2 separate regions of the Homo sapiens genome follow, and region 1 is linked to region 2. Evidence: fine-mapped expression QTL. A gene starts in region 2. The other region holds a variant in brackets. All regions are shown on one strand. Distances are between the middles of the regions.

Region 1 (16,312 bases), 120 kb after region 2:
ATAACTTTTCTCTAAGAGGATCGGTGGAATGTAGTAACACTCTTGTCAGAGCTGAGAAAATAGCCAAATCTTGCTATAGCACAGTGCGTTGTCTGTTATACTTAGGGCTTACATCATTATTCTAAAAGAACTTTCAGTAACAATATTTATTTCTACTTGAGAGAGTTTGTTTAAAAATATATCTCAGTAAGTTAATAATTTTTCTTAAATAAAATGTAGATTTTTCTTTTTTAAAGGGTTCTGAAAAGAGGATGTAATTGTGTAGCCTTGTCTAAAAATAGAGGGTATCTAAGATAAAAGTCTCTTCTACTTCATTTTTAGATTCTTGGAAAGTAATTTTGCTTTATATGAAGCAGCCAAAGACAAATTATTCCCATATTATAGAAATATTGGCTATTGGTATCTTGTGGGCTTTATAATTAATAAATCAGATGTTTTTGTCCCAATTTTATGGGTAAGAAAACTGCTCTAAAGGGAAGTATATTTTGTACTTTTAGAGTGAATTTGTGACAAAATTGGTAGTACAGTGATCTCCTTTAACATAAATAAAATAATTTAAAACTTTATTTTTATTATTAAAAGTATTTATTTTATATTTCTAATTGTTATTATTATTATTATTTTTGAGATGGAGATTCACTCTGTTGCCCAGGCGGGAGTGCAGTGGCGCAATCTTGGCTCACTGCAACCTCCACCCCCTGGGTTCAAGCGATTCTCTTGCCTCAGCCTCCGAGTAGCTGAGATTACAGGTGGCTACCACCGCACCCAGCTAATTTTCGTGGTTTTAGTGGAGGTGGGGTTTCACTGTGTTGGCCAGGATGGTCTCGAACTCCTGACCTCATGTGATCTGCCCGCCTTGGCCTCCCAGAGTACTGGGATTACAGGCGTGAGCCACTGTACCCGACCTATATTTCTAATTATTAATGTAGGTACTCTCATCTCTATATATTACCTGTAAATGTTGAAGTCTTTTGCTTTTAGACCTTTACGTCACATATTTCTCTATTCTCTCATCTGTAGTCTACTCTGAATCTCCCAGAAGATCTTTTGAGGGTTCCTGATGAGTCACTCTTCTTAAATAGTGGTGGAGATTCCTTAAAGTCCATCCGGCTCCTCAGTGAGATTGAAAAACTTGTTGGTACATCAGTACCTGGGCTTCTGGAAATTATTCTCAGCAGTTCCATTTTAGAGATTTATAATCACATCCTTCAAACAGTGGTTCCAGATGAAGATGTGACATTCAGGAAGAGTTGTGCCACAAAAAGGAAACTCAGCGACATTAATCAAGAGGAAGCCAGTGGAACATCTTTACATCAGAAAGCCATCATGACTTTCACTTGCCACAATGAGATTAATGCTTTTGTTGTACTGAGCAGAGGGAGTCAAATTTTGTCTCTGAATTCCACTAGGTTTTTAACAAAGTTAGGACATTGCTCTTCAGCCTGTCCTTCTGACTCAGTTTCACAGACCAACATTCAAAATTTGAAAGGCTTAAATTCTCCAGTTCTTATTGGGAAGTCAAAAGATCCATCCTGTGTTGCAAAAGTTTCTGAAGAGGGGAAACCTGCGATAGGGACTCAGAAAATGGAGTTACATGTGAGGTGGAGGTCAGACACAGGCAAATGTGTAGATGCTTCACCGCTGGTTGTAATACCCACTTTTGATAAGTCATCTACAACTGTGTACATTGGTTCCCATTCTCATAGAATGAAGGCAGTTGACTTTTACTCTGGGAAGGTAAAATGGGAACAGATTTTGGGAGATCGAATTGAATCCTCAGCATGTGTATCTAAGTGTGGAAACTTTATTGTGGTGGGTAAGTTTTTGAATTTGAGGTTTGTGGAGTTAAATTGAATTACCATACAATAATCTTCATAGGCCCAAGTTAAATTTTTTAAAAATCTAAATATGATGGGTTTGGTTGCTGTCCAAAAATTATAGTTAACCCTGTGCTGATTAATATTGTGGGCCTTGGGGTCAAGAGTCCCTGGATTTGAACCTACCTGTATAGCTATTATGAACTCTGTGACCTTTGGCAAGTTACTGAACCTCTTAGAATTTCACTTTCCTTGTGGGTAAAATGGGAATAATAATAAAATGTGTTGCTGTATCACAAATACCCCAAAACTCAACAACCTAGAACAACACAAATTTATTGTCTCATAGTTTCTATGGGTCAGCAATTCAGGAGCAGCTTAGCTGGCAGTTCTGGCTCAGGGCTTTCACGTGGCTATAGCCATCTGAAAGCTTGACTTGGGTTGGAAAATCTGCCAAGGTAGCTCATTTACATCACTATTAGCAGAAAGCCTCAGTTCTTTGCTGATTCTGGCAGGAAGCTTCAATTCTTGCCACATACGCCTCTCTCTAGGCTGCTTGACTGCCCTTACAACATGGCAGCTAACATTCCTCAGAGTGATCCAGGAGACAGCAAGTAAAGAGGAACAGAGTACCTTTTATGACCTAGCGTTCCAAGTTCCATACCATCATTTTTTGTTTTCTTCTGTTAATTAGAAGGGCATAACTCAGCCAGGCGCGGTGGCTCACAGCTGTAATATCAGCACTTTGAGAGGCCAAGGTGGACAGATCGCTTGTGCCCAGGAGTTCGAGACCAGCCTGGGTAACATGCAGAAACTCTGTCACTACAAAAAATACAAACATTAGCTAGGCATGGTAGTACATGCCTGTAGTCCCAGCTACTTGGATGGCTGAGATGGGAGGATCACTAGAGCCCAGTAGGTTGAGGCTGCTGTGAGTGGTGATTGTGCCACTGTACTCTGGTCTGAGCAAGCAGAGCAGGACTCTGTCTCAAAAAAAAAAAAAGTGCATAACTCAGTTCAGGCCACATTCAAGGGGAAGAGAATTAGGCTCCACCTCTTGAAAGGAAGTACATCAAAGAATTCATGTACTTTTTTTTTTTTTCTTTTTTTTGAGATGGAGTCTGGCTCTGTTTCCCAGGCTGGAGTGCAGTGGCGCGATCTTGGTTCACTACAACCTCCACCTCCCGGGTTCAAGTGATTCTCCTGCCTCAGCCCCCTGAGTAGCTGGTATTACAGGCACATACCACCACACCCAGCTAATTTTTGTATTTTTTGTAGAGATGGGGTTTCACCATGTTGGTCAGGCTGGTATTGAACTCCTGACCTTGTGATCCACCTGCCTCGGTGTCCCAAAGTGCTGGGATTACAGGTGTGAGCCACTGCACCCGGCCTCCTGGACATATTTTAAAACACTAGAATCTTTTATCAAGCTTTTGGGAGGATTAAATGAGATAACTGTTTATGAATCAATTGGTGCATTGCTAGGGACGTGCCACCACACCTGGCTAATGTTTGTAATTTTTGTAGAGACAGAGCTTCTGCGTGTTGTCCAGGCTGGTCTCAAACTCCCGGGCTCAAGCGATCTGCCCACCTCAGCCTCCCAAAGTGCTGAGATTACAGGCGTGAGCCACCATGTCTGGCCTGGTGAGCATTTTTTCATAAGTGCTCATTAAGGGTTAGCTACTAACTGCTGCTTAGTTTCATTAAGGTATAGGTGACTTTTACTCTATTAGGAATATGGGGGTCCTGGGTATAATATCTCCCCCTGACTACAACTCTCTTTTTACTCTCCCAAGTATGTTAGGTTTCATTTTATACGCTCATGGAATCTTCATCAAAGCTTTTCAAACTAAAGGCTTAGGAATAGCTTTCCCTACTTGTGCTATCCTAGCAGCAATCTACTTGAATCTGAATGTGATTCTTCCCTTCTTCCCCTTTAAACAACGGCATTTTGAAAATTATACTACAGAACACTTTCAGTAATACACCTGAATGATAAGAAACTGCTGAATTGTTTCCCAAAGTGATAAAGTGTTTTGCATTTCCACCATCAATGTGTGAAAAGTCCAGTTGCACCACATTTTTGCTAGTACTTGGTATTGTCAGCTTTAACTTTTTTTTTGTTATAGCCGTTGAAATAATCATGAGTGGAATTTTATTGTGGTTTTAATTTGCCTTTCCCTAGTGACCAGTGATGTTGAGCATCTTTTTTTTTTTTTTTAAGACAGCGTCTTGCTCTGTCACCCAGGCTGGAGTGCAGTGGCGTCATCATGGCTTACTACACCCTCGAACTCCTGGGCTCAGGTGATGCTCCCACCTCAGCTTCTGGAGTAGCTGGGACTACAGATACACCACCACACCTGGCTAATGTTTGTAATTTTTGTAGAGACAGAGCTTCTGTGTGTTGTCCACGCTGGTCTCAAACTCCTGGGCTCAAGCGATCTGCCCACCTCAGCCTCCCAAAGTGCTGGGATTACAGACGTGAGCCACCATGTCTGACGAGCACCTTTTCAAAACCTCATTTGCTCTCTGTGTATCTTTTGTGAAGTGTCTATTGAAATCTTTTTCCCATTTTTAAGTTTTTTAAATTGAGTTTTAAGAATTGTTTTATGTATTCTGAATATAAATCATTTATCAGATATATGTTTTGCATGTTTTCTCTCAGTCTGGGGCTTGTGTTTTATTCTTTTAGCGTAGTGACATAGTGTCTTTTGAAGAGGAGTCCTTTATTTTGATGAAGTCCAATTTAATTTTTTTAATGGGTCATGCTTTTGGTGTCATCTTAGCAATCTTTGCCTAACCCAAGGTCAAAAAGATTTTCTTTTGTATTGTCTTTTGGAATTAAACTGAATTGACAGAAATCTTTACCCAGGTGAGTTCTGGGGTGCTCTACTATGTAGGACATTTCTCTTTGTCATCTCTGAGCTGGCCACTACTCTCTTGCTACTAAATAATAACTGCCAGGGGAAAAAAAAGCATAAAAAGTACATTGGGAATTGGGCCTCAAATGAGTGGCAGCGGCCATAGGCAGAGCTGTCTAGAGAGTGGGCATCAATGAAATTGCCCTAAATAGCTGTCCCCAAATTCTACTTCTCCTGATTTTCATGATCTCCAGGGAATTTGAGTGACCTTCACTTTGTACATTTGAACCATCTCTACTTCCAGTTAGGTTATTTTGGCTACACCAAGGTCAAGGACTCCTGCCCTGTCTTCTCATCCATAGCAGCAATTTGGGAAAAGCAGTTTAGTTGTTAAGAGCATAGGCTCTGGAGATTGACTTCTTAGATTCAAATCTTGGTTTGCCACATATGAGCTGTGTAATTTTTCCCCAGTAATTTAGTCTCTCTGTGCTTCAATTTTGTTATCTATAAAATGTGGTTATAATAGTACTTACTTCACTGTGGGGATTAAATGAATTAATAGATGTAACATACTTAGAATAACGCCTGACACATAGTAAATGCTCAATGAACATTGACTATTAACGTTAGCACTTCTTAAACACCTTCTATGCACTGGGCATTTGTTCACATTATCTGAATTGTTGCAATAACCCTGGAAGTAGATGACTCCACATTCTGCAGATGAATAATTTGGGGCTTAGCAACACTGGGTGATTTAAATGCCCAGTGACAGTCGTGATGAAATCTGAATCCAGATGTGTCAAAAATCTCTCTCCACCACAGTGTACTTTATTATTTTTTCAGTAGTGAAGCGCTTCTTAAAAATAAGTATGTAAAAAAATTAGTGAAGTACTTTTAAAAGATAAGATACACCTACTAAATAGATATTTTACATAAGTGATTACTAATTCAGTTTCTGCTTTACATTGCTAAAATGTAAGCCAGATGAGCTTATCATAGAGCCTATGTATAAGAGGAGGACTGAATATAAATTGCATGCTGTAGGCTAAAGAATTATTTTCCAGTAATATATCTATATCAAATCTTTTGTGCTTTGTTTCTTGGTAGGCTGTTATAATGGATTAGTTTATGTTCTGAAAAGTAATAGTGGAGAAAAATACTGGATGTTTACTACTGAAGATGCTGTCAAAAGCTCGGCAACCATGGATCCAACCACAGGACTCATTTACATTGGATCTCATGACCAGCACGCATATGCTTTAGATATTTATGTAAGGATTGACCTCAAATTAGCTGGGCATGGTGGCGCATGCCTGTAATGGTAGTTACTCCAGAGGCTGAGGTGGGAGGATTGCGTGAACCTGGGAGGTGGAGGTTGCAGTGAGCCAAGATTGTGACAGTGTATTCCACCCTGGGTGACAGAGTGAGACTCTATCTCAAAAAAAAAAAAAAAAAAAGAAAGAAAATTCACCTCATTAGTCTAATACCATAAGCATAGAAGCATTAAATTTCAATACTTAGAAGAAGAGTGAGTAACTGTCAGGTGTAGTTGAGCCTTGGAACAGGTATTAACTATTTCCCAAGCTTGTGTGGTCTGGGAAGAATAAAGCATTAATTAAGTCTTAATATCTTAAGACCTTTTTAACTTCATTACCAAATTTACCACAAATAAGTGTGCTACTCAGAGTTTTGGAATTAAAGAATTTAGGATTATCATCTTGACAGTAGAAAAAAATGACGAAGATATCAATAAGATGTTTTAAGACCTGATTACATAAAAATTAAAATGTTATGTAAGAATTATGAAATTAAGCTGGGAAAATTTTTGAAATAAATGTAAAAAAAGTGGAAATTCATTTATATTTATAAGTATTAATGAAAATAAAGATCAAATACAAATTAATAAGACAAATGTAGAGCAGATAGAAAAATAAACAAGGGACATAAATACACAGGACCCCAAAGAAGAGACGGCTAGTAAATGTATATAAATAGTTCATGAATTTAATAATCAAAGGAATGAAAATTAAAAACTCTTGAGATAAACAAATGGTGTTAGATTAGAAGACATATTCATCATAACATTAAATGCTGATGAGAGTGGTAAGAGGTTGTAACTAGTGAGGCCTCTAATGAAAACGATTTGACCATAGGTAACAATATCATATCCTTGATCCAATAAAATTCGTTTTTTAGAAATCCTGGCAAAAATAATCAGAAACATAGTCAAATATATGCATTAAGATGCCTATTTCTAAGTTGTTTATAATACCTAGAAATTCCAAAAAACGTTCAATGATAAGGTAGAGAGAGAAATTATTTATGTTCATATGGGATATTATGGATTAAAATTATATTTAAATCATTTTACAAAATCAGTGAGCAAAATATGATACCAAGTTATATATTCAGAATGATCTCAGCTATATTAGATCGTGTGTGTGTATATACACATATTCTCAGATGTGTGCGCCCAGACACACACACCCATACCCCAAAAAGATCAAATGAGAAAATGCTAAAATGTTAACACTGGTTGTCTCTGGGTAGTGTCCTTTGTCTTTATACTAATCTGATTCTCCACAGTAGGCATGTACTTTATACTAAAGATAAAAACTTATATTAACTAAACAGACATAATATCATGAAGGGTAGGTTATATGGATTTGTTAACCATCAACAAGAACAAATTAATTTGTTTTCTTATTTGCAGAGAAAGAAGTGTGTTTGGAAGTCAAAATGTGGAGGAACTGTCTTTTCCTCTCCGTGTTTGAACCTGATTCCACATCATTTGTATTTTGCTACATTGGGAGGACTTTTACTGGCTGTAAATCCTGTAGGCATAAAATAATACATATTGATTTTATTACTTTTCTTTAAATTTGTAAAATTTTTGCTTTGAGCTTTGAAAGTTTGAGTAGTTTTCAGTTAATTGTAGTAGTCCACATACACCAAACTGGAATTCATTAAAAATGATTGACATGAGATCTAGAAAGATAAGAAAATTTAAATTCCTGTATATATATATATATGTATTTTTTTGTTTGTTTGTTTGTTTTTTGACAGAGTCTCCCTCTGTCACCCAGGCTGGAGTGCAGTGGCGCAATCTCAGCTTACTGCAACCTCTGCCTCCCAGGTTCAAATTGACAAAATTTTTTTCATCATATTAAGAACTTTATGTCCATCACAGGGATAACTCTTAGGTGCTAGTTTTTTCTTTGCTGCTTTTATTGCAAGCCTTTTTCCTAGTTCTCATAAATAGCACTGATTAATTTTATATATGTATACCAGCTTCATTTATGTCTGCATACCACTACAGCATTTTCTGCTATTTTAGTTCTAACCCTAGGAGATGTATGAGTTTGTTTTTTAAAGGGTAACTGATTAGTAGGATGACATAAAATGCTGTGAATTGCTTTTTCCTGTGACAGGCTACTGGGAACGTTATTTGGAAACATTCCTGTGGAAAACCACTCTTCTCTTCCCCACAATGTTGCTCACAGTATATTTGTATTGGCTGTGTAGATGGGAATTTACTCTGCTTTACTCACTTTGGAGAACAGGTAATAGAACTAGAAATTTTTTATATATACATTTTTATATATATATAAATGTATATATAAAAAATAGAACTAGAAATTTTATATATCTATAGTTCTATTTATATTTTTTAAATTTACTTTTCTTAAAGGCAAAGCAGATGGTGACAACTGAAGTAACATTTTAAACATCATTATTCAACTCACGGTGTTGAGAAGTAGTTCTATTTTAATTGTGAAGCCATGGATTTCTTAATTTTTTAAAGAAGACATAGTAGATTTAAAAGATTTCTACCCAAACATTGTTACACTTCTTTTGTCATCTCCCCCAATTTTTAAAATATTACCAGTTTTTAGCCTGTTTTATTATAACTTCTATTGAGATTATGAAAGTTTAAATAAAACCCCTGGATTCTTTTAATTGATACAGACATTTGTACCTATTTATGGGGTATGTATGTGATATTTTGTTACAATCATAGACTGTGTAATGATTAAGTCAGGGTGTTTGTGGTGTCCATCACCTTGAGTACTTATTATTTCTATGTGTTGGGATCATTTCATGTCTTCTCTTTTAGCTGTTCTGAAATATACAACATATTGTTGTTGGCTGTAGTCATCCTACTCTGCTACTGAACATTATAACTTATTTTTTCTTACTATATGTTTTTACCTATTAACTAACCTGTTTTTATTTTTTTATTAGCCAACCCACCCCAACTTCTTTTTTTTTTTTTTTTTTTTTTTT[G/TG]AGACAGAATCTTGCTCTGTTACCAGGCTGGAGTACATTGGTGTGATCTTGGCTCACTGCAACCTCCGCCTCACGGGTTCAAGCAATTCTCCTGCTTCAGCCTCCCGAGTAGCTGGGACTACAGGCGCATGCTGCCATGCCTGGCTAATTTTTGTATTTTTAGTAGAGACGGGGTTTCACCATGTTGCCCAGGCTAGTCTCGAACTCCTGACCTCAAGTGATCCACCTGCCTCAGCCTCCCAAAGTATTGAGATTACAGGCATGAGCCACCACGCCCGGCCCCCAACTTCTAATATTCCATTTTCTTCCTCCCTGAGATCAACTTTTTTAGCTCTCACATATGAGTGAGAACATGCAATATTTGTCTTTTTGGGCCTGGCTTAATTTCACTTAAGATAAAAATCTCCAATGGCTGGGCATCATGGCTCACGCCTGTAATCCCAGCACTTTGGGAGGCCGAGGTGGGAGGATCACAGAGTCAGGAGATCGAGACCATCCTGGCCAACATGGTGAAACCCCGTCTCTACTAAAATACAAAAAAAAAAAAAAAATTAGCTGGGTGTGGTGGCACATGCCTGTAGTCCCAGCTACTTGGGAGGCTGAGGCAGGGGAATCGCTGGAACCCGGGAGGTGGAGGTTGCAGTGAGCCAAGATTGTGCCACTGCACTCCAGCCTGGTGACAGAGCGAGACTCTGTCTCCAAAAAAAAAAAAAAAAAAAAAGATAAAAGTCTCCAGTTCCATCCATGTTGCTGCAAATGACATGATTTCCTTGGTTTTTATGGCCTGATAGTATTTCACTGCATCTATATATACTACATTTTCTTTATCCACTCATCCATTGGTGGACACTTAAGTGCATTCCATATCTTTGCTCTTGTGAATTGTGCTGCAGTAAACATGGGAGATGGGAGTGCAGGTTGTCTCTTTGATATACTGATTTTTTGTCTTTGGGTAAATAGTAGTAGGACTGTTGGATATGATAGTTCTCTTCTTAGTTTTTTGAGAAATCTCCATACTGTTTTCCACAATGACTACCCTAATTTACATTCCCACCAGCAGTGTAAGTTCCTTTTTCTCCACATCCTTGCCAGCATTTGTTATGTTCTTTTAGTAATAGCCATTTTAACTTGGTAAGATGATATCTCATTGTGGTTTTGATTTGCATTTCCCTGATCATTAGTGATGTTGAGTGTTTTTTTCATATACCTGTTAGCCATTTGTATGTCTTCTTTTGAGATATGTCTATTCATCTCCCTTGCCCACTTTTTAATAGGATTTGTTTACTGTTGTGTTGTTTGAGTTCCTCATATTCTATATATTAGTCCCTTGTTGGATGAATAGTTTGCAAGTATTTTCTCCCATTCAACAGGCTGTCTCTTCACTCTGTTGTTTCCTTTGCTGTGCAGAAGCTTTTTAGCTTAATATAGTCCCACTTAACTATTTTTGTTTTTGTTGCCTATACTTTTTAGGCCTTAGCTATAAAAGCTTTGCTTAGACCAGTGTCCTGAAGTGATTCCCTTATGTTTTCTTCTAGTAGTTTTAACTAGTTTTAGGTCTTAAATTTAAGTCTTTAATCCATCTCGAGTTTATTTTTATATGCAGTGAGAGAGAGGGGTCTGGTTTATTCTTCTGCATGTAGAGAGAGCTCCAATTTTCCCAGCACCATTCATTGAAGAGGGGTGTCCATTCCCCATTGTGTATTTTTGACATCTTTCTCAAAACTCCATTGGCTGTAACTACGTGGATTTATTTCTAGGTTCTCCATTCTATTACATTGATCTATTTTTATACCAATACAGTGCCATTTTGGCTAAATTAGCCTTATTTTGAAGTCAGTTACTGTGATGCCTCCAGCTTTGTTCTTTTTACCCAATATTGCTTTGGCTATTCTGGGTCTTTTTTGGTTCCATATGAATTTTATTTTCTTTAATTTTATTTTTTGAGATGGAATCTTGTTCTGTTGCCCAGGCTGGAGTGCACTGGCACAATTTTGGCTCACTGAAACCTCTGCCTCCCGGGTTCAAGCCATTCTCCTGCCTCAGCCTCCTGAATAGCTAGGATTACAGGTGTGTACCACCACACCCAGCTAATTTTTGTATTTTTAGTAGAGATGGGGTTTCACCATGTTGGCCAGGCTGGTCTCGAACTCCTGACCTCAGGTGATCCACCTGCCTTGGCCTCCCAAAGTGTTGGGATTACAGGTGTGAGCCACCATGCCTGGCCACAACTTATAACTGTTTATCATTGCCCATAAACTCTTCCTTTCAGCACAATTAACTTTTTTCCTACATTTGGAAAAGAAGATACATAGTTTGTAAGAAGATATATTGAAAACTGGTCTCAATTTTTTTTTTTTTTTTTGAAACAAGGTCTCACTATCGCCCAGGGTGGAGTGCAGTAGTGTGATCTTGGCTCACTGCAACCTCTGCCTCCCAGGTTCAAGTGGTTCTCCCACCTCAGCCTCCCCAGTAGCTGGGACTGTAGGTGTGTGCCACCACACCTGGCTAATTTTTGTATTTTTAATAGAGATGGGGTTTCACCATGTTGGCCAAGCTGGTCTTGAACTCCTGACTGCAGGTGATCTGCCTGCCTTGGCCTCCCAAAATGCTGGGATTATAGGCATGAAACACCACGCCTGGCCCAGTTTTTAATAAGATACACTGAAGGCTGGATGTGGTGGCTCACACCTGTAATCTCTGCACTTTGGGAGGCCGAGGTGGGCGGATCACGAGGTCAGGAGATCGAGACCATCCTGGCTAACATGGTGAAACCTCATCTCTACTAAAAATACAAAAAATTACCTGGGTGTGGTGGCACGCGCCTAGCTACTCGGGAGGCTGAGGCGGGAGAAGCGCTTCAACCTGGCAAGCAGAGGATGCAGTGAGCTGAGATCATGCCACTGCACTCCAGCCTGGGCGACAGAGCAAGACTCCATCTCAAAAAAAAATAATAATAATAAATAAAAATTAAAAAAAGATAATATTGAAAACTCAATGTAGTTTTACCTTTGAACTCAGTGTCTCTGAATAATACTAACTCTTGAATGGAGTTCAAAATTAATTTTACTTATTATGCACGGCAGTGAATCACATAGTAACAACACTCCAGTATATTTTGTCTTAGATTTTACATTTTACCACTGGGACAGAGGTCTAGTATGATAGTGCTACTTTTCAGAAAAAGCCATTTTGTCTGTGTATAGTTACCATTCAAATAGCCTATATCTCTTAGATTTGCATTAAGAACCTCATAGAGCTTTAAGGGAGAATTGGAGCAATTAGATGAATGAATTATATTTATTTTTATTACTTGTTATAGGTTTGGCAGTTCTCTACCAGTGGACCAATCTTTTCATCCCCGTGTACCTCACCATCAGAGCAAAAAATATTTTTTGGTTCCCATGATTGCTTTATCTACTGTTGTAACATGAAAGGTCACCTGCAGTGGAAATTTGAAACTACTTCAAGGGTCTATGCAACACCGTTTGCTTTCCATAACTACAATGGCAGCAATGAAATGTTGCTGGCAGCAGCATCTACTGATGGGAAAGTGTGGATCTTGGAATCTCAGAGTGGACAATTGCAAAGTGTTTATGAACTTCCTGGAGAAGTCTTCTCTTCTCCTGTGGTCCTGGAATCAATGCTCATTATTGGGTGTAGAGATAATTATGTTTATTGTCTGGATTTATTGGGTGGCAATCAAAAATAATCAAATACAGTCCTTATTTGTATAACAAATGTGAGATATTTGAAAATATTTTACCATTATACATCATGTGGACTTATTTTATATTAAAGAAGATTATATTTTGGCTAAGAAACGGAAACTTGTCTACACTTGATTAGAGAACAACTATATTTTACTTCCCATAGGAACGACAGAAGCTTTTACAAGGAGTTAGAGAACAAAACACATCAATATAATTAGTAGCACTTTTGTTTAATTAGGTGTGATGGTTAACTTTATTTATATGTCAGCTTGACTGGCTAAGGGATGCTCAGATGATTGATAGCTGGTAAAACATTATTTCTGGGTTTGTCTGTGAGGCTGTTTCTGGAAAAGATGATTAGCATTTGAATTTGAATCAGTAGACTGAGTAAAGAAGGTCCTCCCTCACCAGTGTGCCAATGTGGGTGGCATCGTTCAATCTGATGAGGGCCTGAATAGAATGAAAAGGTAGAGGAGGGGCAAATGCTGTCTTCTTGCTGAGATGTATCCATCTGCTCCTGCCCTTGGACATCAGGGCTCCTGGTTCTGAAGCCTTTAGACCACTCTCCTGGGTCTCCAGCGTGCAAATGGCAGATGGTGGTACTTCTCAGCCTCCATCATAATCACTTAAGCCAATTTTCATAATACATCATCTCTCCTAATCGCTAGGTTTCTATGGAGAACCCTAATACATTAGGCTAATTTTATGTTTTTTTCTTTAAAAAAGCAAGATCCCAGCTGGGGGGCCGGGGGGAGAAACAGAATATACTTACTTGGTGGGTTAAAAACAGTCTTTATTACATGAATTTGTCATTCATGGCAAAAGGTTTTCTAAGGCAGGATCTAGTTATTGAATTATGTTCCTTAGTTATTTTTAAATGAAGTACTAATGTAGAATAAAATAAACACACATATATCACACCCCCCACATAGTACAATTTCATGGTTATACATGGTGATTTCAGGCATTCATTGTTCCTAGCAATGCCCTTTCCTTAAAATTTTGATCTTTTGCGGGCAGCCAAGATGGCCGAATAGGAACAGCTCCGGTCTACAGCTCCCAGCGTGAGTGACGCAGAAGACAGGTGATTTCTGCATTTCCATCTGAGGTACCGGGTTCATCTCACTAGGGAGTGCCAGAGAGTGGGCGCAGGACAGTGGGTGCAGCACACTGCGTGAGCCGAAGAGGGTGAGGCATTGCCTCACTCGGGAAGCGCAAGGGTTCAGGGAGTTCCCTTTCCTAGTCAAAGAAAGGGGTGACAGACGGCACCTGGAAAATCGGGTCACTTCCACACTAATACTGCGCTTTTGCAACGGGCTTAAAAAAAACGGCGCACCAGGAGATTATATCCCACACCTGCCTCGGAGGGTACTACGCCCACGGAGTCTCGCTGATTGCTAGCACAGCAGTTTGAAATCAAACTGCAAGGCGGCAGTGAGGCTGGGGGAGGGGCACCTGCCATTGCCCAGGCTTGCTTAGGTAAACAAAGCAGCCGGGAAGCTTGAACTGGGTGGAGCCCACCACAGCTCAAGGAGGCCTGCCTGCCTGCCTCTGTAGGCGCCACCTCTGGGGGCAGGGCACAGACAAACAAAAAGACAGCAGTAACCTCTGCAGACTTAAATGTCCCTGACAGCTTGGAAGAGAGCAGTGGTTCTCCCAGCATGCAGCTAGAGATGATCTGAGAACAGGCAGACTGCCTCAAGTGGGTCCCTGATCCCTGACCCCCGAGCAGCCTAACTGGGAGGCACCCCCCATTAGGGGCAGACTGACACCTCACACGGCCAGGTACTCCTCTGAGACAAAACTTCCAGAGGAACGATCAGACAGCAGCATTCGTGGTTCACGAAAATCCGCTGTTCTGCAGCCACTGCTGCTGATACCCAGACAAACGGTCTGGAGTGGACCTCTAGCAAACTCCAACAGACCTGCAGCTGAGGGCCCTATCTGTTAGAAGGAAAACTAACAAACAGAAAGGACATCCACACCAAAAACTCATCTGTACATCACCATCATCAAAGACCAAAAGTAGATAAAACCACAAAGATGGGGAAAAAACAGAGCAGAAAAACTGGAAACTCTAAAAAGCAGAGCGCCTCTCCTCCTCCAAAGGAACACAGTTCCTCACCAGCAACAGAACAAAGCTGGACGGAGAATGACTTTGACGAGTTGAGAGAAGGCTTCAGACGATCAAACTACTCCGAGCTACAGGAGGAAATTCAAACCAAAGGCAAAGAAGTTAAAAACTTTGAAAAAAATTTAGACAAATGTATAACTAGAATAACCAATACAGAGAAGTGCTTAAAGGAGCTGATGGAGCTGAAAGCCAAGGCTGGAGAACTACGTGAAGAATGCAGAAGCCTCAGGAGCCGATGCAATCAAATGGAAGAAAGGGTATCAGCCATGGAAGATGAAATGAATGAAATGAAGCGAGAAGGGAAGTTTAGAGAAAACAGAATGAAATGAACAAAGCCTCCAAGAAATATGGGACTATGTGAAAAGACAAAATCTACGTCTGATTGGTGTACCTGAAAGTGACAGGGAGAATGGAACCAAGTTGGAAAACACTCTGCAGGATATTATCCAGGAGAACTTCCCCAATCTAGCAAGGTAGGCCAACATTCAGATTCAGGAAATACAGAGAACACCACAAAGATACTCCTCGAGAGGAACAACTCCAAGACACATAATTGTCAGATTCACCAAAGTTGAAATGAAGGAAAAAATGTTAAGGGCAGCCTGAGAGAATGGTCGGGTTACCCACAAAGGGAAGCCCATCAGACTAACAGCGGATCTCTCGGCAGAAACTCTACAAGCCAGGAGAGAGTGGGGGCCAATATTCAACATTCTTAAAGAAAAGAATTTTCAACCCAGAATTTCATATCCAGCCAAACTAAGCTTCATAAGTGAAGGAGAAATAAAATACTTTACAGACAAGCAAATGCTGAGAAATTCTGTCACCACCAGGTCTGCCCTAAAAGAGCTTCTGAAGGAAGCACTCAACATGGAAAGGAACAACCGGTACCAGCCACTGCAAAATCATGCCAAATTGTAAAGACCATCAAGCCTAGGAAGAAACTGCATCAACTAATGAGCAAAATAACCAGCTAACATCATAATGACAGGATCAAATTCACACATAACAATATTAACTTTAAATGTAAATGGACCAAATGCTCCAATTAAAAGACACAGACTGGCAAATTGGATAAAGAGTCAAGACCCACCAGTGTGCTATATCCAGGAAACTCATCTCACGTGCAGAGACACACATAGGCTCAAAATAAAAGGATGGAGGAAGATCTACCAAGCAAATGGAAAACAAAAAAAGGCAGGGGTTGCAATCCTAGTCTCGGATAAAACAGACTTTAATCCAACAAAGATCAAAAGAGACAAAGAAGGCCATTACATAATGGTAAAGGGATCAATTCAACAAGAAGAGCTAACTATCCTAAATATATATGCACCCAATACAGGAGCACCCAGATTCATAAAGCAAGTCCTGAGTGACCTACAAAGAGACTTAGACTCCCACACAATAATAATGGCAGACTTTAACACCCCACTGTCAACCTTAGACAGATCGAGACAGAAAGTTAACAAGGATACCCAGGAATTGAACTCAGCGCTGCACCAA
Region 2 (8,230 bases):
GACTCATTGACAAAATGTTTTTGAAAATGTCTCTTTTCTCACAAAATAGCCCAAAATCAAGAGACTGAATTTTAGCAAACATATTTAATAGGAGAAAAGCAGCATTGCCTCTATTTCCCTTTTATTTTTAATAAAGTTTACAATTAATTTTTAATCTCTAACACATTTATACGCCTCAAATATAAAAAGAAAAAGAGATACACTAAGAGGCTTTATTCCCACTGCTACCCAAATCTAACCTGTTCCTATTACCTCCTACAAATGACTTTTTTTTTTTTTTGAGACGGAGTCTCCCCGTCACCCAGGCTGGAGTGCAATGGCACGATCTCAGCTCACTGCAGCCTCTGCCTCCTGGGTTCAAGTGATTCTCCTGCCTCAGCCTCCCAAGTAACTGGGAATACAGGTGCACACCACCATACCCAGCTAATTTTTTGTATCTTCAGTAGACATGGGGTTTCACCATATTGCTCGGTCTGGTCTCAAACCCCTGACCTCGTGATCCGCCCTCTTAGGCCTCCCACAAATGACTATTCATTGTTTCTCTTTATACTGTTTGTTTTGCAAATACAGGCAAATGCATATATAAATTTTTATATCCTCCTCCTCTTGTAAAAGGAAGTATAATATATATTGTTCTGCACCTTATAAACCAGTATCCCATTAATATGCTTCAAACTTAATTTCAATACATATTTTTTTGGAGCCTAGGTATAACAGTAAAGAAACTTCGACTGAGTTATTCTTGCTACATCCTCCAACGACTCATAATTATGCCCCACAACTCTCTATGGTTCACCTCCTTAGCGGTTCAAAGGAAACACAGTGGTTAAAAAAAAAAAAAAAAACTCTCTAAGGCTGAAAAAAACAGAAGTTACTAGTATTCCTTCCAGTTCAGAAACATTATTGACAAGCAAAAGGGGGGAAAAAAAGGAAGGAAAAAAACGTTAAAAAAAATCAGCAAATAGTTGGGAAAAAACATGGAAGAGATTATAGCTATAGTAAGTGTTTCTAATAACTGTACAAGCAACTAACTGAATCACTTACTTGGCTAACACTTTGGTGTGAGTATTGATGACATTCAAAGCTTCCTTGAAACTTCCATTCTGGATAAGGCATACCACTTTACAATGCAGGGCAGTTACGTCATCTTTGTTGATCTGTAGTACTAGAGAACAATTTTAGGAAAAGTCATTTTTAAATCCATTTCCTTTTCACATTTTTACTAAATTTTCCCACCCTGTCTCTCCGAAAGCTAAATTTCTACTTTTATTGCAACAGAAATAATTGGTCAGAACAACTGGAAGAAACAGCAACAAAACAAAACAAACCCAGAAAACAACTAATCTTTGCTTTTAACTTAAGAAGTGACAATAAGGAGAGTTATAGATTAAATTTTCAATGAGATAAAGATTCCCAATATACATGTACCAAAAAAGTGCAGTGAAATAAAGAAGAAAGAAGCAATTTCTCCAGATATTTCATCTTGAAATGCATGCTACATTCTACATAGTTCATTACTTCACAGGGAAAAAGTTCAGGTAGAATTTGGAAGCAAATGACCTAGGTTTGGTGCAAGCTTGCCACTAAATGCTTTGAGGTATTGGGCATATCACTTAACAGCCAAATCTCAGTTTTCTTAGCTACAAAATGATTAGAAAAGCATTACCTATTTAATAAGGTTACTGACAATATGAAATGAATATTTTGGAAAAATCTTATAAAGTATAATACAAAGGCAATTTATCTTGCTGGCAACGTTTCCAAAAATCATTAAAATTTCCCCTTTTCAACTAAGATGACCAAAGTATAAGGAAGAACTCAGGTGGCAAGTTTCAACGCTAACAACTGTTCGGTGTTAAAATGACCAGGATCATAGTTACTCTTGCTCCTGTGCAACTACAGAAGTCCAATTCTCAAAGAATCACAAGAATTTCTACCAATTAAGAAAACATACTGGTAAACAAGTTGACAATCTTTGCTGATTAAAGAATTCCTGCAAAATACTATACTAAGTATACAGTACTGGTTGGAAGGCTAGAGTTAATTCAAACAAATTTAGGGATCAAATAATTCTAATTCGTAGCTATTTTCCTCAATGTCTGAAATCACCAAAAGTGCACTGTGGGCACAATCACTACTTTTCACGTTAACCCAGTACTAGAGTGTTGAAAATTACTTAGATAGCTTTGCATGTTACTGACACACCTTTTAGGTTACTGCTACTCTGAACAGCTAAGCCCTGCCTTGGTAATTACATTTCCAAATCTAACATGCACAGGCTGTATCTTCAGTAGAGAAGAACTGCGCACCACCGAGAACATTAAGCAGCATGGCCATATTCCAGGTATGTAGTAAGGAACAAAAGAATATGATGAATTAAACCTCACACCAAAGGCGGTAAAAACCGAAATCATCCCTTACAGGGCAAAAAAACAGGCCAAACTTTTCTTCCGACATTATTTCAAGTGTTGGTGCTTCCACACACATATTTCCTAACTTAATAACACTGAAGAGATCTCATCTATGGGAATGACAGGCCTGACATCCAGATCCAGCCCTTTCCTCTCGCCCCGTAGAACCCGTACAGCTTCCACCTGGTTAGCACCAGCCTCTAAACTACGTGTCCCAAGCAGGTTCCTCCCCCTTTAGCGGCCAAAGAGAACAAGCTCCCTCAGCAATAGAGTCCTGATCACTGCGCTCAAGACGAAGAAGAAAAGGAGGCACTTTGGAATATTTGTGAAATAAAGCAGCAAAGGAGTCAAATAAGAAAACAGTTTGAAATGGACTCCGGGAGCTGCGGTCTCTTTAAAACCTTCCCTCGCTTCCCGCGGAGGGTAAAAAGAGAAGTACACGTGGCTGTAAGCAACCAGGGACCCCAGGCTGGCCTGGTGAAGCCGAGGAGTGAGACCTGCGTCTTCCGGGCGCTAGGGCCCGAGCCGGGCGGACAATAGACGGGGGGGTTTCGGGGGTCTCCCCTTCCCGTGCCTCCCGCGCGAGGTGGTCTCGCGCGCCGGAAACAGGCCGCATCCTCCAGCCGGCCTGGGCCCGCCCCAGTGCCCACCCCGACACTTACTCTTATTGACGGTCTTGAGAGCGCGCGTGAAGTCGCCGTTCTGGCCATACCGGTTCACTTCACTCCACAGCGCAGGTACTGACACCCCCCCGCTGCCGCCGCTCGCCATCTTGGAGGAGACGAGGGGCGGGGCGGGGAGACCTCTGCCCCGGAACAGGATCTCCGAGGCAGCCAAGAGGAGGAGGAAGTCGATGATTGCTAAGCGTCGCCGAGTTGGGAGTGTCTTCAGCCCTAAGGCAGCATCAGAGATCATAATCTTCTGCTCTCGTGGCAAGAAATTTGTGCGGATAGAGTTGATACACCTCACTTGAAGTTGGCCTGGAGAAAAGAGGCGTCGGACTCCTGGACGGGGTTGGGAAACGGTCACCAGTTTCGGCTCAAAGCAGCCTGTTTCCAGGAGACCGCCATGGTCGAGGCAGCGTCCTGGTCCCACGGTGCGGGGCCGGACGATCATTTATGGGATATAAATAAAAGGACTATGAGGTGGTAAATAAAAGACTACCAACTAGAAGCCATAGGGAGTCATTTGAAGGAGAAATAGGCACGGCTCATCTGTGGTTGAGGGAAAGGGATCTTGAAAGATGATTAGGAGAACTTGGGTTCTGGGGAAAGTGCGGGAAGACATTCTGGCAGAGAAGCAAACGTGAGGAAAGGTAAGAAGGCAAGAATCTCCCATTACAAAGGGTTTGGTGAAACCCTTTGCCTGTCCTTTTCGCTCCCTTCGGGAGCAGTCGGCAATAAGCTGGAAGGGTAATGGGGTGAAAATGCCCGTGGTCAGTTCCCTGGCTCTGCGACTCACTAGATGTCTGACAATAAACAAGTTACTTAGCTTCTGGGAGTCTGTTTTCCCGATTGTGAAATGGGGATACTATATTTGTTCTAGAGATATAAAATATTAGGGTTTGCTTGCGACCGTTAATATCAAGATGTGTTCAGATGTACGAAGGGAATGGATATCTGTTGGGTACACTTGATGTGAGTGATTTTTTTTTTTTTTTGAGACGGGGATCTTGCCGTGTTGCCCAAGCTGGTCTGGAACTCCTGGGCTCAAGCAATCCTCCCACCACAGCCTCCCCAAGTGCTGGGATTACAGGCATGAGCCACCACACCAAGACGATGTGAGTGATTCACTTGATGTGAATGTTGTATTTCATTGAATGGCCTGCTCTTCAGACTCATATCTCGTCATGACCTTTACAACTTCTACTACTTCCTGTGTCCCTCAGGAACCTAGCTTTTTTTTTTTTTTTTTTTTTTTTTTTTTGAGACGTAGTCTAGCTCTGTGACCCAGGATGAACCTCACTGCAATCTCCACCTCCTGGGTTAAAGCGATTCTTTTGCCTCAGCCTCCCAAGTAGCATGAGCCACCACGCCCGGTTAATTTTTGAATTTTTAGTAGAGATGGGGTTTCACTGTGTTGGCCAAGCTGGTCTCAAACTCCTGACCTCAAGTGATCCGCCCTCTCTCAGCCTCCCAAAGTACAGGGATTACAGGCGTAAGCCACCGTGCCCGGCCTTGCTAACTACTTTTTGTCTTTCAGTCTTTCTGGTTATACGTTGAAAGTTACTTTGAGGAAACATTTGATCTTGCAGACTGGGCAGCCTTCTGGTTGCATCCTCTTAGAACAGGGGTCCCCAACCCTTGTACTGGTCTGCAGCCTGTTAGGAACCGGGCGGCACAGCAGTAGGTGATCGGTGGGCCAGTGAGCAGTACCGCCTGAGCTCCTGTCAGATCAGCTGTGATATTAGCTTCTCACAGCTCAAACCCTATTGTGAACTGGGAATGTGAAGGATCTAGGTTGCTCACTCCTTAAGAGAATCTAATGGGAAATGTAATGAGCTTGAATCATACTGAAACCAGCTGTCCAACTCCTGTGGAAAGATTGTCTTCCCTGAAACCGGTCCCTGGTGCCAAAAAGGTTGGGAGACTCCCTATAGGACTCCACTTCTGAGCACTGATAATTAAGGGTTATCTCACTCTGTATGGACTATAGTTCTGAGGCCAAGGAACCATATTTACCTTGCTCACTGCAGTATCCCTAGGATCTAGCATACTGCCTGGCACATAGTTGGCATTTTTTGTTTCACATTCCTTGCCTAATCTTGAGTTCCTTGAGGGCAGAAACTGCCCAGCTCCTGATATGGCATATGGTGCCCTGCCATATTTTTGTCTGGTCCTTCCAGTATATACAATGCAAAGAGCATGAAAGGTGGCTTGAACTCTAGGTGCTGGAGGGTGTAATTCTTGTGAATTAGTAAAAATCATGAGAAGAGCTTTAGACTTTTACTGACTAGAATTGTCACAGGTTTCAAGCCAGTTATGTTTAGATTTCAGGGGGTGGGGGCTCCAGATGACATGGTATACCCAAAATGTTGTGTGAGAAAATTGGGTATACCCAAAATTTTGTTGTATTTTGTTATTCTGAGAAAATGTAGATTCCACTGTATTCTCCAAAGGTGTTTATATCCACCATCCCCTCCCAAAAGTTAAGAGCCACTGTCCTAGTAGTACTTTTTAGAACATTGACTTTATATAAGAATTGGCAATTTTCGTTTCTATATCATTCTAATCCTATATACTTTGTAGCTTTTAGAAATGCTCAGAATTCTGCTGCTGTGGACTTGTTTCTATTTCTTATGTCATTTTAATGGAGTTTTGTGGCAAACAGCCTATAAATATGGGGCTTAACCTGCCATTTTTGAAACAGGAATCTTCCAAACCATAGTGGTGTTTTGTTTTTTTTTTTTTAAATAACAAATTTACATCTCACATTGTGAAGGATGGAAAGATTGTCTGGTGAGGGGCCACTCTGATTCATAGATGGCATCTTCTGTTTTCACATGGTGGGAAAAAAACCAGACTGATCTCTTAAAGCATGTATCTGATGCCACTTTCCTACCCTCACGATAAAATCCGAACTCCAAAGAAGAGCAGTAAGAGCTTTTGTGATCTGGCCTCTGCTTGCCACCTCCCCAACTCACATAGGTCTCTATACTTATTTCCTAGCCCCCTTGCATGCTATTCACCTCTAACTTCCATGTAGTTATGTGTCCCCCTACCTCCTGGAATTTGCATTTTTATTCATCTGACAAGTGTTTGTCTTGTATATGCCAGTGCCGTGTATTACACCAGTTGCTGTGATACAGCTGACAACAAAGAAGACAGCCCAGTGTAATACATTTATTTTCTAGTTGGGAGAGATGGGTAATAAATAAACATGTACTATGTTTGGTGGTAATAAGTTTGCTGAAGAAAATTATGGAAAGGTAAGAGAGATTGAGTATAGACTGTGGAGAATTAGTCTTTTTCATTCACAGTATACAATTGTTTTCTAGAGATCAGAGTCCTTCCTACTTTTGTGTATTCACAATACCCTATTGTTAATTCCATATTAAGACTATATACGGTGTTTTGAAATTGTCTGCCTCTGGAGACTTCCAAGATTCATTGAGAGCAGAAGGTTAATTTTGTTCATCTTTGCATTCCCAGGGTCTTATATATACATAATAGGCTGTATTTGTTCTCTAAAAAATACAGAACCAATAGGATATGTACAGATTATGAGAAATTGGCTCTGCAAAATGGAGGTGAAGTCCCACAGTCTGCCTTCTGCAGGCTGAAGGCCCAGGAAAGCCAGTGTAGTTCCAAACCCGAGGGCTTGAGAATCAGGGGAGGCAATAACGTTAAGTCCTAGTCTGAAGGCCTGAGGACCAGGAGCACCAACATCTGGGGGCACGAAATGGATGTCCCAGCAGTTCACCCTTCTTCCCCTTTTTTGTTCTATTCAGGCCCTCAATGGATTAGATGACGCTCACCCACATGGGTGAAGGCAGTCTTCTTTACTCAAGTCTACTGATTCAAGTGCTAGTCTCTTCCAGAAACACCATCACAGATGTACCTAGAAATGTTGTTTGACCAGCTATCAAGGCATCCCGTAGCCTAGTCAAGTTGACAGAATTAGCCATCTCATCAGTATCCACAATGTATTTTTATATTAATGGATTTAGCCTGAGAAGCTTCCATGTACAGTATCTTTTTTTTTTTTTTTTTGGCGACAGATTTTCGCTCTTGTTGCCCAGGCTGGAGTGCAATGGTTCGATCTCAGCTCACCACAACCTCTGCCTTCCAGGTTCAAGCGATTCTCCTGCCTCAGCCTCCCGAGTAGTTGGAATTATAGGCATGCACCACCATGCCTGGCTAATTTTGTATTTTTAGTAAAGAGGGGGTTTCTCCATGTCAGTCAGGCTGGTCTTGAACTCCCGACCTCAGGTGATCTGCCCACCTCACCCTCCCAAAGTGCTGGGATTACAGGCGTGAGCCACTGCACCCAGCCTCATGTACAGTATCTTATGGTATCTTGTCAACTCAGAGGCAAGCAGAAGAAATAAGACGTGAGCCACCGCGCCCAGCCTCATGTACAGTATCTTATGGTATCTTATCAACTCAGAGGCAAGCAGAAGAAATATTTAGCTCCATTTTATAACTTGATTTCCATTCCACTATTTTCATTGTACTGCAATGTGAGATTAACAATTCCACCCCAAGTATTTGAGGTGTGGGAAGCTGGATGTAAAAACACCATTAAAAACAACTCTTTTCAATGGCTTTCTAAGGTTGGCTGGGCTGAAATGGCAGGTTGTGGATGCTCCGTGGCACATCACACTGCCCCTTTCTTCATATTAGAAATTAAATCAGCCGATGGCAATATTGAATTCCAGGTAATTTTCTTTCTTTCTTTTTTTTTGAAACAGAGTTTTGCTCTTGTTGCCCAGGCTGGAGTACAATGGCGCAACCTCGGCTCACCACAACCTCCGCTTCCCAGGTTCAAGCGATTCTCCTGCCTCAGCCTCCTGAGTCGCTGGGATTACAGGAATGTGCCACCATGCCCGGCTAGTTTTGTATTTTTATTAGAGACTGGGTTTCTCCATGTTGGTCAGGCTGGTCTCGAACTCCTGATCTCAGGTGATCCACCTGCCTCGGCCACCCAAAGTGCTGGGATTACAGGCATGAGCTACCATGCCCAGAGAATTCCAGGTAATTCTCATGGTGAATGAATTCCATTCATACTGTTGTTCTTCAGTCTGCCAAATGGATATTACATAACACATTTGTGTGCCATGATGGGCCTTACATATATTGACTCATGTAATTCTCACA

The links.
Region 1: its variant is fine-mapped to the expression of SRP72 in whole blood (INTERVAL, PIP 0.94).

The regions. Positions count from the first base shown.
Region 1 is chr4:56,334,767-56,351,078 of GRCh38, reverse strand. It overlaps AASDH (aminoadipate-semialdehyde dehydrogenase), which reads left to right. Exons shown (of 15, transcript NM_181806.4): 11 at 1,021-1,816; 12 at 5,789-5,952; 13 at 7,395-7,517; 14 at 8,113-8,244; 15 at 12,288-12,789. The coding sequence ends at 12,677. Among named protein-coding and RNA genes, the nearest start is that of AASDH, 45 kb to the left of the region's middle. The variant G/TG (reference allele first, on the strand shown) is at 8,969.
Region 2 is chr4:56,462,588-56,470,817 of GRCh38, reverse strand. It overlaps SRP72 (signal recognition particle 72), which reads right to left and starts at 3,201. Exons shown (of 19, transcript NM_006947.4): 1 at 3,074-3,201; 2 at 1,045-1,165. The coding sequence starts at 3,182. PAICS (phosphoribosylaminoimidazole carboxylase and phosphoribosylaminoimidazolesuccinocarboxamide synthase) reads right to left here. Exons shown (of 9, transcript NM_001079524.2): 9 at 6,240-8,230. LOC124900706 (a long non-coding RNA gene) reads left to right here and starts at 3,260. Exons shown (of 2, transcript XR_007058126.1): 1 at 3,260-3,726; 2 at 7,825-8,230. RefSeq lists an enhancer at 3,147-3,356.